3 separate regions of the Homo sapiens genome follow, and regions 1 and 2 are each reported to be linked to region 3. The links are microRNA targets in miRTarBase. Many come from high-throughput screens and were not tested one by one. Region 3 holds a microRNA gene; each other region holds the end of a gene's coding sequence. Distances are from middle to middle.
Evidence for each region. The annotated mature microRNA hsa-miR-4632-3p reads UGCCGCCCUCUCGCUGCUCUAG and lies in region 3 at 1,358-1,379, opposite strand. An mRNA with a match to its seed (bases 2 to 7 or 8) in the 3' UTR can be bound and repressed. Matches are read on the target gene's strand: a 7mer-m8 pairs with bases 2 to 8, a 7mer-A1 pairs with bases 2 to 7 and ends in A, and an 8mer does both.

Region 1 (5,073 bases), not on the chromosome of region 3:
ACGGCCACCTCGCTGCCCAGCAGCCCCGCGGCCGCCGCCTGCGCCCCCCTGGACTCCGGCGCCTCCGAGAACAGCCGCAAGCCCCCTTCGGCGTCCTCGGCCCCGGCCCTGGCGCGAGAGTGCGTGGTGTGCGCCGAGGGCGAGGTGATGGCTGCGCTGGTCCCCTGCGGCCACAACCTCTTCTGCATGGACTGCGCCGTCCGCATCTGCGGCAAGAGCGAGCCCGAGTGTCCCGCCTGCCGCACGCCGGCCACCCAGGCCATTCATATCTTTTCCTAGAGCGCGGACCACCACGTGGCCGGGGCCATCTGCGGGGGCCAGGGGTGGGCGCGGGAGACGGGGCGGGACCCGGGGTGGGAGAGGGACGGGGAGGGGGCGAGGGGCGGAGGCCGAGGGGGCAGGGGGGTGGGCGGCGGCCAGTGTTTACAGATGAGCTTTAACTGCCGCCTCAGGCGTGGAGACGGAGACCCCGCAGCCCGGCGGCGCCTCAGCCCTTCAACGACAGTATTGAGTGGTCAGGTTACAATAAACCGGAGAGAAAAGGTCCGCTTGCACTTTTTTTAGTTTTCTTATTTTTAGACACCCCTCCCCTCCAGGGTGATCTTTAAAAAAGCAAAACAAAAAACACGACTTTTCCAGCGCTCAGCGTTTTTTCCTTTCGTCCGAAGCCGTTTTCTGATTTGACTTTTCTCGCCGGCCGGTCTCAGGCCGCACAGACGTTCCAGAGGAGGAGGGTGACATTTTTACTCCCTTTTTGGGGCTAACCATTTATGCTTTTGTACATCAACCGTGCGCGGCCGGAGGGGGCAGGGGGGCGGGGGCGAGGGGCGTTCCAATCAAATTTCTAACTTTCTGTTAATTATTAATCCCCTTTTTACTGCGGTTTCTGTTGTCATTTTTAAAATTTTTTTAATTTTTTTTTTTTTTTACTTTTACTTTTTACCTCTTGTGTATATGTAGGGAATTTATAGGGAAATATGTACTTTATGGAATAAATTTTAAGAACTAAAATATATTTTATTTTAAATAAAGTAATGGACCTTTAATCTTACACAGCTAAATTACTGATTATATATTTGCTGAGCTGATTTAAGGGTTAAAAAAATTGTATCAAGAGTTTTATTTTTTGACTTCAAAGCCTTCTTAATAAAGCCTCTTTTCTACATGTGAGCACACGGCTTCAGCGTGGTGTGGGGGATGGGCACCAGGAGGGGAGACCCCGGGGCAGGGGACACCCGGATCCAGCCCCTCAACCCCCCAGTTCCGTGGTCCAGGCCCTCACCCCGACCAGGCACTGTCCCTTGTTCCAGACGAAGGAATTGGGTCTGTGGGGGAGGGTCTAGCTGGGCTCCCCGTGAGCAAACCTCAGGTCCTCCCCATCCCTGTGGGTGTTCAACCATGGATCCCACAGAGAAAGGGGACCCAGGCTGTCCTTCCTCAGGGACATCTGCCCAGCTCTCTGGGTGTGTGGGATCCATCCCAACAGACCGTCCAGCGGTCGTGCAGATGGGGAAACTGAGGCCTGGAAATGCCCGTCCCAGGTTTGACCCCGATGCATCCTGGTCTGTGAAGGACGTTTGAGCCGTGGTCATCCCCCCACTGCTCTGGGAGCCATGACAGACACATGGGGCCACCAGATATAGCTCTTCAGGGCTGGGGTTGAGACCACAGGCTCGCCGGGTGCAGTGGCTCTCGCCTGTAATCCCAGCACTTTGGGAGGCCGAGGCAGGTGGATCAGGAGGTCAGGAGATCGAGACCATCCTGGCTAACACGGTGAAACCGCGTCTCTACTAAAAGTACAAAAAAAATTAGCCGGGCGTGGTGGTGGGCGCCTGTGGTCCCAGCTACTTGGGAGGCTGAGGCAGGAGAATGGCGTGAACCCGGGAGACGGAGCTTGTAGTGAGCCGAGATTGCACCACTGCACTCCAGCCTGGGTGACAGAGTGAGACTCCGTCTCAAAAAAAAAAAAAAAAGAAAAAAAAAAAAAGACCACAGGCTGGACCCATGGTGAGCTGTCCCAGCGCGCCATCCCAAAACAGCCAGGAAGCCCCTGGGTGTCAGGATGGGCCACTCCGGGGACAAGGAAGGGGCCGGGCACACAGGCTGCAGGCTTGGGGAGTGGACCTTGGGGAGGGGCCTGGGACTTAGAACCCACCAGGGAAAGAGAAGCACGTGTGGAAGAGAGGCCTGGAGAGCTTCCAGGAGGAGGCGAGGAGGAGAGAGGAACCACCAGAGACGCACACCTGAGTTCAAGCCCAGCCCTACCCAGGCCCCTGGCCTGGAACTCCCTCCTCCGCAAAACGCAGGGTGTTCGAGGCCCAAACTCCCTCTCGGTGAGACTGAGGGGCGTGTCATTGGTTGAATGGAGTCCCCCCACCAAAATAAGGAGTCCCCCAGAAAGTGAGAATGTGATTTTATTTGGGAAAAGGTCTTTGCAGATATAATTAAGGATCTCAAGATGAAATCATCCTGAATTAGAGCAAGCCTTAAATCTAATAATGAGTGTTTTTTGTTTTTTTTTTTTTTTCTGTTTGGTTTTGTTTTGTTTTTGAGGCGGAGTCTTGCTCTGTCGCCCAGGCTGGAGTGCAGTGGCGCCATCTCGGCTCACTGCAAGCTCCGCCTCCCGGGTTCACGCCATTCTCCTGCCTCAGCCTCCCGAGTAGCTGGGCCTATAGGTGCCTGCCGCCACGCCCGGCTAATTTTTTGTATTTTTAGTAGAGACGGTGTTTCACCGTGTTAGCCAGGATGGTCTCGATCTCCTGACCTCGTGATCTGTCCGCCTCGGCCTCCCAAAGTGCTGGGATTACAGGCGTGAGCCACTGCACCCGGCCATGAGTGTTTTTATAAGAGAGGGAGAGGGGCCGGGAGCGGTGGTTCACGCCTGTAATCCTAGCACTTTGGGAGGCCAAGGTGGGTGGATCACGAGGTCAGGAGATCATAGACCATCGTGGCTAACACGGTGAAACCCCGTCTCTACCAAAAATACAAAAAATTAGCCGGGCGTGATCTCGACTCACTGCAACCTCCACCTGCCAGGTTCCAGAGATTCTCCTGCCTCAGCCTCCTGAGTAGCTGGGATTACAGGTGCCCACCACCACACCCGGCTAATTTTTGTGTTTTTAGTAGAGATGGGGTTTCACCAAGTTGTCCAGGATGATCTCAATCTCTTGGCTTCGTGATCCACCTGCCTTGGCCTCCCAAAGTGCTGGGATTACAGGTGTGAGCCACCACGCCCAGCCGGGAGGGACTGTTAACCTGGGTCTGGCCACAGCTGTGCGGAGCGGCTGGGTTCGGCTGCAGGCCACACACCCTGTGACCTGGGCTGACTTCGTGCCTCAGCCAGACTGCAGAAGGCCGCAGGGAGGGGCGGGTGTGCGGATGCCCCCCTCCCCTCTCTGCAATTGGGTCATGGAGAGAATGAGAGCAGCCCCCAAGGGGTCGAGGGATCAAAGATGGGACAAATGTCAAAGGGGTGGAGGAGAGTCTTTTGGAAGGATATGAGGGTTCCTGCAGCCCCCGGGTTCCGATAGAGTGGGCAGAAGGGGATGATTTTGTCTGGTGCTGCAAGGATTCAGGGGGTGTCATGGAGCAGCTCTGCTTCCGGGGAGCCCCAAGTGGGGTCAGTTTGTCACCTAACTGCAGGGGAGGCTGGGGAGAGGAGAGGCACCTCCACACTGGGAGGAAGCTGGACGTGGTGGCACACACCTGTAGTCTCAGCTGCTCGGGAGGCTGAGGTGGAAGGATCACTTGAGCAAAGTGAGGTTGAGGCTGCAGTGAGCCGAGATTACACCACTGCACTCCAGCCTGTGTGACAGAGCAAGACTCTGTCAACAACAACGACGAAAAAAAAAAAAAAATTGGGAGAAGAGAGGACATGACAGAGCTAGGCGCAAAGACCCTGGGAGGTGGGGTGGGGAATTGCCCGGCGGAAGGGAATGGCAAAGCTTGGGGAGGCTGCTGGGTGACCCGCCAGGGCAGGGCCCAAGTCTAGACTGGCCAGGACCTGCTCTAGGCGTTTCTGATGTAGTGATATAGAGGAGCTGAGGCCCCCCAGCCAGGGGCCAGGGGTGTCACCATGCTGGTCCCAGGACTTCCGGAGACATCCGAGGGATGAGCTCACTCCCACTGCAGGGTTGCTCAGCTGGCACATGAGAGTCTGAAGTGTCTGTGGCCTTTGGGCACAGCACAAGAGATGGCCAGAGATGGATTCTGTTTTTGTTTTTTTAAGAGACAAGGTCTTGCTCTGTTGCCCTGTCTGGAGTGTGGTGGTGCAATCATAACTCACAGCAGCCTTGACCTCCTGGACTGCAACGATCTTCCCACCTCAGCCTCCCTAGTAGTTGGGACCACAGGCACATACCATCATGCCTAGCTAATTTTTTGTATATTTTTAAATTTTTGTATATTTTGTAGAGACGGGGATTCTTCATGTTGCCCAAGCAGGTCTCGAATTCCTGGCCTCAAGTGATCCGCCCGCCCCAGCCTCCCACAGTGCTGGGGTTACAGGCATGAGACACTGCATCCGGTCCAGTCTGGATTCTTAAAGTTGCTGCACGAGGCCCTGGATCCAGCTGTGCCTGAAAGCCAACTTTTCCATGCCAACCTTTCCATCATCAGAGCTAATAGCAGTTGGAACAACTGAAACTCTAACCACCTACAGGGACCACATTTCTGACCAAGGAGCTGGAAGAATTTTCTAGAGGGGCTGGGCAGCAATGGCAAAGCAAGGATCCCATGCATTGGCCTCTCCATGTCTCGGCACAGCTCAGGGAAGCCAAGGGCTGAGGCCTGGCCTGTGTCCTGGGCACAAAGTCTCATTGCTATTGTCATTCACCTCCTTTGACTCATGGACTTGGCATGGTGGGGTGACCCTAGTCCAATGTCTGCTGAAAATCCCCTGTTCCAGGTCTCATCAGACACGGGGGACACTGAGGGGCAGGGCTGTGGTTCTCCCATCTGTAGGCTCCACGTGGGAAGGATACACCACCCACACATTTTGTGTCCCTTGGTGGGAAGAACGCACCATCCACACACCGTGTGTCCCTTGGGATGTCCCCAGGGTAGAGACCGTGC
Region 2 (5,073 bases), 11 Mb from region 3:
CCGCGGGACCGACCTCCCTGGCTGTGCCGCGTCCGCCTCCCTGTAGGTCCCAGCCCCAGGCCCGCCGGTTTCCGGAGTCGAGCTCCCACCGCGGTCTGTCCCGGACACGCGCGCCTCTCCCTCGCCTGCGCTCAGCTGCCATCCTTTTCAGCGGTGGCCCCGGGCTCCCCTGGGCTTCGCCTCTCAGACCCACAGCCTCCAACCTGGGACCCACCAGCGCCTCTCCGCCCGCGCGGCTTCCCTCCTCCTCACCCCCGGCCACGGAAGGCCTCGTCACCCTCCAGGTCCCCTTTGAGTCCTCTGGGTCCTGCGCGCTCCGCAGCGGTTGCTCCCCAAACTGCCTCTCCTGGTTCTGCGCACCCTCCTCCTCCCCTCCGAGGTCCTCCTCCCTCCTCCATTTCTGGCGTCGGGGCTTTTTCTCCTCTCCTAGGCAACACCCAGCAGGAGCACCTGCCTCAGGCTTCAGCCCAGCCTCTCCCTGCCTGGCACCCCTCGGCCCCCTGGACCCCACTCAGGGAACCCCAGCTTCCCCAGCCCAGCCATCCCTCCAGACGCATCAGGGCGAATCCACCCAAAGCTCCGGTGCCTCCAGCTCCATCTCCACGTCCCTGAGCGCCTCTTCTCACCCCCCTCGACCCGCCCATTCTCCCCCAAATCCCTCCCTCTGCTCCCCCTGCAGCCTAGCACCCTGTCCTAGCCAGGGGCGTCTTCATGAAATCTGGTGGCCTCCTGCTTGGAGCCCTCCAGGAGCCTCCCACAGCTCCTCAGGCAGCACCCCCAGCTCTCTTCCCCAGGCCCACGCAGCCCCACTGGACCTGCCCTGCCCATCTCTGTCCAGCCTCTGCTGCTCTGACCTGTGGCCTCTGTCCTGCACGCTGGCCTCTGGCCGCTCCTACGCCTCCGCTTCCTGCTGAAAGATCCCTTTGTCAAGCCACAGGGCCCTGCACACCGTCCAATGGACCCACACCACATGCCCCGCCTCTGGCCTCCTCACCTGCCCTCCCCCTGCTCATGCTTCGGGTCTGGGTTTGGGCGTGTTTTCTCTGGACCTTTCCTGAAAACCAAAGTTAGTCTGCCCCCACCCTGGCCCCCCACCGTCAGCGACCTGTGTGTGGCCACCGCTCCTGGACTCTCTCCTCCCCGACCCCCAGTGCCTGACACCTGCCAGGCACACAGGGTCGGTCAGCATATCCCCAGAGGACCAGGTGATGAAAAGCCCAGAAAGCAAACACTCAGACGCATGGGACCTCCTGGGTGTGGAGCTTGTGGGTATTATCTTTTCATTTTTTTTTTGAAACGGAGTCGCGCTCTGTCGCCCACGCTGGAGTGCAGTGGTGCAATCGCGGCTCACTGCAACCTCCGCCTCCCGGGTTCAAGCGATTCTCGTGCCTCAGCCTCCCGAGTAACTGGGATTACAGATACCTGCCACCACGCCCAGATGTTTGTGTTTTTAGTAGATACAGGGTTTCACCATGTTGGCCAGTCTGGTGTTGAACTCCTGACCTCAGGTGATCCGCCTGCCTCAGCCTCCCAAAGTGCTGGGATTATAGGCATGAGCCAATGTGCCCAGCCATTGGTGTTATTTTATTTCGATGTTTTTGTGGTTTTCTTTTTTCTTTTTTTTTTTGAGACGGAGTCTCCTTCAGCCACTGAGGCTGGAGTGCAATGGCGTGATCTCGGCTCACTGCAACCACCGTCTCCTGGGTTCAAGCAATTCTCCCGTCTCAGCCTCCGGAGTAGCTGGGACTACAGGCACCCACCATCATGCCCAGCCAGTTTTTGTATTTTAGGAGAGACAGGGTTTCACCATGTTGGCCAGGCTCGTCTTGAACTCCTGACCTCAGGTGATCCACCCGCCTCGGCCTCCCAAAGTGCTAGGATTACAGGTGTGAGCCAGCGCACCTGGCTTTTTTTTTAAAATCATTAATACAAAATAGAAAACTACACTTAGTTATTTTTCATAAGAGACAGCAGTTTGCGAAGGGCCACCCAGCTGGCCACACACCCTACCCCTTCTTCCCCTGCTTCTCCCCAGGGCTCACATCTGCCGGTGCTGGGTGCCAGCTCTGTTTTTTAGACAGGTTCTCGCTCTGTCACCCAGGCTGGAGTGCAGTGGTGCAATCACAGCTTGCTGCTGCCTCAACCTCCTGGATTCAAGTGATCCTCCTGCCTCAGCCTCCGGAGTAGCTGGAGCTACAGGTGTGTACCACCACGCCTGGCTAATTAAAGAAATTTTTTTGCAGAGATGGGGTCTCACTATGTTGCCCAAGCTGATCTCCCACTCTTGGCCTCAAGCGATCCTCCAGCCTCAGCCTCCCAAAGTGCTGGGATGACAGGTGTGAGCCACCGCGCCCTTCCCTGAGGCTCAGCTTCTGCAGTGCTGTCACCCACACACTAATTTAGGAAGCAGGTTAGAGGGAGTCCAGGAGCCCAGCTACCCCAGGGGTTTCTAGTTAGGGGCTTCCAGCAGTGCCAAGGGTTGGTTCTGCACACCTGGGCCAGTGAAAAGGCTGCCCAACAGCCCCACGCACCCTGGCTCCCCCCAGACCCTTCCAGTCCTGGGTGCAGCCTCCTCCCAACCCTGTGCTCTGACACAGATGTGGGCCAATTATGTGTGCAGGCACACACACACACACACACACGTGCACGCCAGAGAGCAGGCACACACACCCACACATACACGCCGGAGAGCAGGCACACGCACCCACACACGTACATGCACCCACACATGCACGCCGGAGAGCAAGCACACGCACCCACACGCACACGCACCCACACATACACGCCGGAGAGCAGGCACACGCACCCACACACACGTACATGCACCCATACATGCACGCCGGAGAGCAGGCACACGCACCCACACCCACACGTACCCACACGTGCACGCCAGAGAGCAGGCACACGCACCCACACGCACATGCACCCACACGTACCCGCACCCACACGTACCCGCACCCACACGTGCACGCCAGAGAGCAGGCACATGCACCCACACGTACCCGCACCCACACACACACACCCCCACACGTACACGCACCCACACGTGCACGCCAGAGAGCCTCCTGCCTCCACGGCCCCGCCTCCCACAGTGCTCAGCAGTGTGTGCTCCCCACTCAGGGCCTCATCAGCCACAAGGATCCCTGTGCAGGGCCTGGCTCCATCCAGGGCCACCCAAGGGAGCTCCAAGTCCGTGCTCCCACCACAAAGCGGAGCAAGAAGCCAACGGGCCAGCGCGCTGGTGAGGATGGACAAAAGCAATGCTTTTAAAGTTTTCAGACTTTATTTCACAGCGATTGACACAGAAACATACTAGAGTTAGTAACACGGCACCCAGCCCCACCGCCGCCCGCTTCATCGGGTCCTGCTCCTAGGAGGACTGGGCTGGGGCTGGGGGTGGGGATGGGATGGGGGTGGGGAAGGGACGGGACGTTGCAGTTTAAGGCATTTCTGGCTTCGGAGCCATCCCTGCCACCTCTGCACCTGCCCCTTGACCTTGGTCAGACACTGGCTGGCCCCTGGTCATTCTGAGACAAGGACGACTTTCACTGACGCTGTGGGGAGGATTTGCAGTGAGGCAGCCCTCAGCCGCTCTCAGGCGAGATGGGAAAGATGAGACCCACCACTCCAGGGGTCAAATAAAATCAACACATGAAGAACACAGCCATGGCCAGGCCCAGATACCCAGGCAGGCGGCAGAGGTCAACCCCATCCCACAGTGAGCTCCTCTCGATAGCCCCTCGCAGGGCCTGGGGTGTGGCAGAGGGATACGGTCACGTCCAGGGTGGCTGGGCAGGGCCAGCTGAGGGTCAGGACACCCAGATCGGCCCTGGTCTGGCCTCTGCTCCTCAGCAGCCTGGGGCTGGCGCAGGCAGCACGGGAGCAACGCAGAGCTGTGCCCAGCAGTAACATTGTTTGGAAGTCACAGTATTGGCGCAGGAGGCCGAGGCAGGGCCCAGAGCACACACAGGAAGGAGCAGCTCAAATGGGGGCTTGGAAAGGCCCTGTGGGGTCACCCGGAGGAAGGGCCCCATCAGACCTCAGCAGCCCCTTCCTCTCTGGGACACGAGTCCCGCCTGACGGAGCGAGGGTGATTCAGGAGCCGGGGCTGCTTCCCGGCGGGGACACCGTGGGGCAGGCGCAGTGCAAGGCGGGGGCTCAGCACCTTGAGGCAGGGGTGTGTGTCCTGAGGCTGCCATCCACGCCGAGCCCTCCACGCTGCCACCTCGCCTGTCCATCCCTCGGCACTAGGTCTGTCTGCAGCACGGCTGCCTGGACGGAAGGGAGGCCGGGCCAGCAGTCCCTCCGGCCAACACTCAGGCAAGAAAATCATATCAAAAAGCAACAAGTTTACAAAAATAGAAAATAATTACAGCGGGCGCGGGGCTCTGGTGCCAGCTCATGGGGTGGGGCAGGGCCGCAGCTCTGGCTTGGTGACGGCGTCCTCCAGCAGGTGCAGCGGGTGCCGGCCCACCACCACGTCCCGCAAGCAGCCCACAAAGCCTGTGCCGTAGGCCTTGGGCAGTGCTGGGCCCACGGGCAGCTCCGGCAGGCCCCCTGCAGCACAGACAGTGGGAGTCACCCGGCTGTGACTCAGTGATGCTGATGGGCACCCCAACGAGCAGGTGACCAGCAGGGGGCCCACACCTGGGCACCCGCCTCCCGGCCCCACAGCACTGGGAACTGCAGGGGCTACAGCGGGAGAAGAGAGCCCAGCCCGCCGGCTCACATGCACCCTGACTCAAGGGTGGGCGCTGGGGGGTGGAGTCTGTCCCTCGGATATCATGAGACCCTTGGGCATCCCTCTCTAGTCTCCCCAAAACACTCACCAAGCCACAGGGCTCCATCAGTGTCCAGCTGCGTGGCGCCCAGCGGGGAGGAGCCGGTCACAGGGGCCTCATTGCCCACCTGCAGGGAACCTTCCCTCTGCTCCCTGGGTGTGCAGGGAGGGGGAGACCATCAGGGCCCAGAGTTCCCTCTGCCTCCTCTAGACCATAAGCCCTGCATCCTTCCTATGCCCTGCAGGTGCCTCAGCCTGGAGAACCCCCGAGGTATCACCCCTGGGGGCAAGGA
Region 3 (5,000 bases):
GGAGTGAATGAATGAGACTTCTTGCGACTTACCAACTGGAAGAGCGAAGTCGCCAGTGCTCCCTTCAGCTGGGGGGCTGGGGCCCATTGGGAGCAGGAAGGAGGTGCTTGGAGCAGTGCTGGGTTCTGGAGTTGGCTGCGTGTGTTGGGATCGTGTGGACACTGGCTGGGGTAAGTGTACTGCCCCTGGGGCCATACTCCGGGTGGGGGACGTGGACGTGCAGACTGCATCCATGCTTGCATTCCCAGGGATGGCCACCACGTTACAGCTGGAGGAGGAGGAGGCTTGGTCAGGAGGCAGCAGGGGACAGAGTGGCTGGGGTGGCTGGGCTCATTCACGGGCCCCAGCAGGCAGGATAGGAGAGTGACGATGTGTGCCCTCTCTGAGGACCACCCCCTCCTAGCCCTCCCCCACCTCCCCATGCACCCACCCAGTCCTGCCTTCCAGGGCAAGGTCCTGCCCACCATGCCATTTATCCTGGGAGCCACCCTCAGATAAAGCAGTCTGGACAATGGTGGTTGGTGAGCTGCTCTGTGTCCTGGACCCACAGTCACCCAGGGACAGCCCCTCCCTGCTCCTCCAGAACCAAAGGACTCAGCTACTCACATCTGGTGGGGCCTGCAAATATCCGTGGATGAAGTCGTGTTGGAGAACGTCCCCGGGGCACAGGGCTTGCACACCACGTCTGATGTTTCAGTTCCTTCAGGGAACAATCCGAACTTGTCAACCACTCAGACACTCTGCGGGACAGCTGGGCCTTGGCACTAGAGCCCTAGGAGAGGTCTGAGGGGCCCAAGGAGCTCTGTCTGCACCTCCACCCCTTACACACACACACACACACACACACACACACAGATGCCTGTACACACATGCACACACACAGATTCCTGTACACACATGCACGGGATTGGGCTGTAGAGTTATGTGAGTTCATCTTGCAGCATCACATAACTTTCCTAGCTTAGGGCTTGGTCTGATCCATCTCTGGGTCTCCTGGTTCCAGTACATAAGAGGTGCCTAATCGGGAGTGCTGGCAGGAAGAATGAACGGTGGACAGGTGGACAGACGGATGGGTAGCAGGCACCTGGCCACCACTAACAGTGCTCCCTGCTGGACTAATTAATGGGTTGATGCCCGTGACACTGCAAGGATGTCTACAAAGGAGAGGCCCATGGGCGTCCCCAAGGACCTGAGCCCCACCCCGTACCTGGTCTGGCCACGCCGAAGCCCGGGCGGCACTTGCGCAGCGGCGCGCACAGCCGGCACCCCTCCTGCTTGCTCAGCGCGCAGTACCAGCCGGGCCTGCAGGTGCAGATGCGGTTCTGTTCCCGAGTGCAGGCTTGAGTTTCCACCTGGTCTAGAGCAGCGAGAGGGCGGCAAACGGTCACGCCTGCCTCCGCCACACCCACGCTGCCCTCCCAGACAGCCCAGCACTCTCAGACAGCGGATCTCCAGGAGGCTGGCGGACCGCCTCAGCATGGGGCACACACAACACCGGCCAGAGTCCAGGGGCAGGACCGGCAGTCCTGCTACTCTCCGCAGTCCCGCTACTCTCCGCAGTCCCGCTACTCTCCGCAGTCCTGCTCGTCCCCCGCAGTCGCGCTCGTCCCCCGCAGTCCCGCTCCTCCCCGAAGTCCCGCTCCTCCCCACAGTCCCGCTCCTCCCTGCAGTCCTGCTCCTCCCCGCAGTGCCGCTCCTCCCCGAAGTCCCGCTCTTCCCCGCAGTCCCGCTCTTCCCAGCAGTTTCGCTCCTCCCCGCAGTCCTGCTCCTCGCAGCACGAGCATGCGCACCACTCTCCCACGCACCACCTCCTCAACCCTCACGTGGGCACAGTTCTCCCACCGCCTGCCCCGTGGGGCTGTGAAGAGGCTTTGGTGAGACAGAGGAGGAAAATGCCAGTGGTAGGGGTAAACAGCTGCACCTGTGCCACTTCCAACAACCAGCCTGGGGTAACTCCAGACAGCTGGAAGCCAAAGAGGCTGGAGTTGCCGGGGGAAGTTGGAGGCAGGGGTGTAAGGGCCCCCTTTTTCTCTGAACCTACTCACCAGAGCTACAGCGGGAGCCACAGCTCAAGCACTCGGGAACCCAGTTCCAGAGCTGGGTGTATGTGCTGTCCTCACAGGAGTCACACACGGTGTCCGAGGTCTTGGTACAGAAGACTTTTGCATGTTGGCCTGAGGAAACAAGGGCCAGAGGTCTCAGCTGGGCGAGCCTTCTGCCAGGACCCTGGGCTCATCCACTGTCCCCACAAAGTCCAGAGTTCTAAAGCCCAGCTGGGAAGGCTATTCTGTGGAGTTCCAATTCCTCAGAATCATCTCCCATCTAGTATTGTACCAGCTATCACGTCATTTCTGAACCCCTTCTGCTCAAAAATAGATTCCTCTCTGCTCTTTCCAGATGCTTGAACCTCCACCACTGGAGCCCTATTATCAGTCAATCACACTTTAGTAAGAACTAGCTTGCCAGTTTCTTCCTTCTTGATAGATGGCTAATATTCTCCAGCTAGGGGCATGAATGATAGGGGGAACAGGTAGTAAGAATGTAGTCCCTGGTATCCTATCAAGGACAAGGGCATGGGCCTGGAAAGCAGGCATTCCAGGGACAGAGAACACCAACGGAAACCTTAAAAAAAAGTTGACTCAGTAGCTGCTTTTTTTTTTTTTTTTTTTTTTGAGACAGAATCTCACTCTGTGGCCCAGGCTAGAGTGCAGTGGCACAATCTCGGCTCACTGCAACCTCTGCCTCTCAGGCTCAAGCAATTCTCCTGCCTCAGCCTCCCAAGTAGCTGGGATTACAGGTGCCTGCCATTATGCCCAGCTATTTTTTTGTATTCTTAGTAGAGACGGGTTCCACCATGTTGGCCAGGCTGGTCTCAAACTCCTGGCCTCCGGTGGTCCGCCCACCTCAGCCTCTCTAGTAACTTCTTAAAGAGACCCTTCCAGTTAATAAAAGAAAGAAGAGAGTCACTTTCCCTAGGATGTCTTAAAATGGCTAGGGACGGTGACAGGTACTCATATGCCCACCTACATCTCAAGGTAACGGCTCAAAGCCCTCCATTGGCTCCCAGACAGAATAAAATCTAAACTCCTTACCATGGTCCCTGCTCACTCCTTCCTCCTCCTCCCCTACCGTACTCGCCTTCGCTCATCCTGGGCCACACATGCTGGCCCTGCTGTTCCTCCAACTCACCAAACAGGCTCCGACTTCAAGGCCTTCGCACATGCTGTTGCTTCCTCCTGGCACACTGTTCCCTGTATACATGCATGACCTGCTCCCTCACCTCCTGCAGGGCTCTGCCCAAATGTCACCTCCTCAGAGAGACCTTCCCAGACCACCCTGTGTAAAACAGTATGTCCCGTTCTGTCTCCCCCGCCTTACCTGACCTTGTCTTTCTACAGCACTTACAGATAGACAGGACCACACATCTCCTAATGTATCTGTCTGCATCCACCGTTAAAATGCAGACTCCACGAGGGCAAGGGTTTTGTCTGCCCTGCTCTCTGTGTATTCCCAGCACTTAGAACACACAGCAGATACCTTATAATCATGACATGAATGAATACAGACACAAATGAATAGATGGAGGGCACCAGGAGTCAGGCTACCTAGCTCCACCAACTGTGGCTGGGCCTCAGGTCTACCATCTGTGAAATGGGTAAGCATTCACAGAGTCAGTCAAATATGCACTGAGCACCTACATGGCATTGCGCCACGTGCTGGGGATTCAGCAGAAAACAAGCCACAATCTCTGCCCTAGAGGAGCACACAGTGGAGGCAACAGGAAGCAGGACCGGGCTATAATCCCACAGCAAGGAAAGAGCTTCCATGGGAACATCAGAGGCCAGTGAGAGCTCAAAGGAGGCAGCACTTGTCTTTCAAGCTGAGTGCTGCCTCCTCCAGGCAGCCCTCCCTGACTCCCCCAGGAGCTAATTTAGGCTCCTCCTCCCCCTCCTCCACCGGCTGGGCAGTATGGGGCAGGCAGCCTTCCTGGAAGAGGGGACATCTTCAGCTGAGGTCTAAAGGGCAAGTTGGAGTTAATCAGGGAAAGGGAGTTGGGAAGTGTGCCAGGAAGAGGGAACAGCATGTTCACAGGCCCAGAAGCAGCAGGGAGCATGGGCCAGTGCATAGAACTAGGAGTTCAGTAAGAATCAAGGGCTATGCTCTTGCGCCCCAGCCCCTGTACACACACGCTCCTCCAGGGCATGGGCCCCGAGTGCCCCCGTGGCTGCCCTCACCCGGCGAGCATTTGCTGCAGCACATCTGAGCTGTCTGGTCATAGTATTCTCTGAGCCGGCATGTGCTCCCGGGCTCCGGGGCGTAGGGTGTAAATGCCACCTGGAAGGAAGAAGGGAAGACTGCCATCAACAGGGCCGCCCCTGGGTTCTGCCATGCCTGATGCCCAGGTCCCCGCCCTGCAAATGTTTGGCCCTCCCCCTGCCAGTCTGCACTGATGATGGCTGGGGAGGTTTCTCCCCCTGGAGCAGGGTACAGGAAGGAGAGCTCGTGCCTTCTTTTACCTCCCCTGCCTCCCCACCTCAGTGTACCCTAGTCATGTCTGCAGGCAGAAGCACTGACTCTGCTGGCCTTCTCCAGTGCTGGGTGACCCCTAACACTGCATGGGACAGATATCCAGAAGACAGTGGCCTTGGTCACAGAGAACGGGGGTTCTCAGCACAAAGCTGCCCTCTGCTGAGGAAGGAAGATACCTCTCCTTCCCTCCTGCACCTGAAACATCCCTTTGTCTTTCAAGATGAGTGCTGCCACCTCTGGGAAGCCCTCCCTGACTACCCAAGGCTAATTCAAGCTCCTCCTCCTCCTCCTCTCGGCTCTCTCTAAACGTGGGTTATGACCCCTCTAACAGTCATCTCATTGTTCTGGAATGGTTACTTGCTTGTCCTTCCACCCCCTGTGGGTATGTATGCACACACATGTGTACACACACACTCATGTGATGCAGACAGCAGAGGTGGCAGCCTTGTCATCTCTAGACCCTCAATCTC

Region 1: the mRNA of MEX3D is a reported target of hsa-miR-4632-3p. Seed matches in the 3' UTR shown: 7mer-m8 at 408-414.
Region 2: the mRNA of AGRN is a reported target of hsa-miR-4632-3p. Seed matches in the 3' UTR shown: 7mer-m8 at 3,345-3,351.

Annotation. Positions count from the first base shown.
Region 1 is chr19:1,550,769-1,555,841 of GRCh38, reverse strand. MEX3D (mex-3 RNA binding family member D) reads left to right here. Exons shown (of 2, transcript NM_203304.4): 2 at 1-1,170. The coding sequence ends at 279. Among named protein-coding and RNA genes, the nearest start is that of MEX3D, 15 kb to the left of the region's middle.
Region 2 is chr1:1,054,308-1,059,380 of GRCh38, reverse strand. AGRN (agrin) reads right to left here. Exons shown (of 36, transcript NM_198576.4): 35 at 4,830-4,933; 36 at 3,265-4,557. The coding sequence ends at 4,400. Among named protein-coding and RNA genes, the nearest start is that of RNF223, 17 kb to the left of the region's middle. RefSeq lists silencers at 1-69, 4,764-4,946 and an enhancer at 1-656.
Region 3 is chr1:12,188,131-12,193,130 of GRCh38, reverse strand. It overlaps MIR4632 (microRNA 4632), which reads right to left and starts at 1,418; the gene lies at 1,358-1,418. It overlaps TNFRSF1B (TNF receptor superfamily member 1B), which reads right to left. Exons shown (of 10, transcript NM_001066.3): 2 at 4,236-4,335; 3 at 2,046-2,174; 4 at 1,208-1,357; 5 at 607-700; 6 at 33-268. RefSeq lists enhancers at 862-1,413, 3,760-4,297.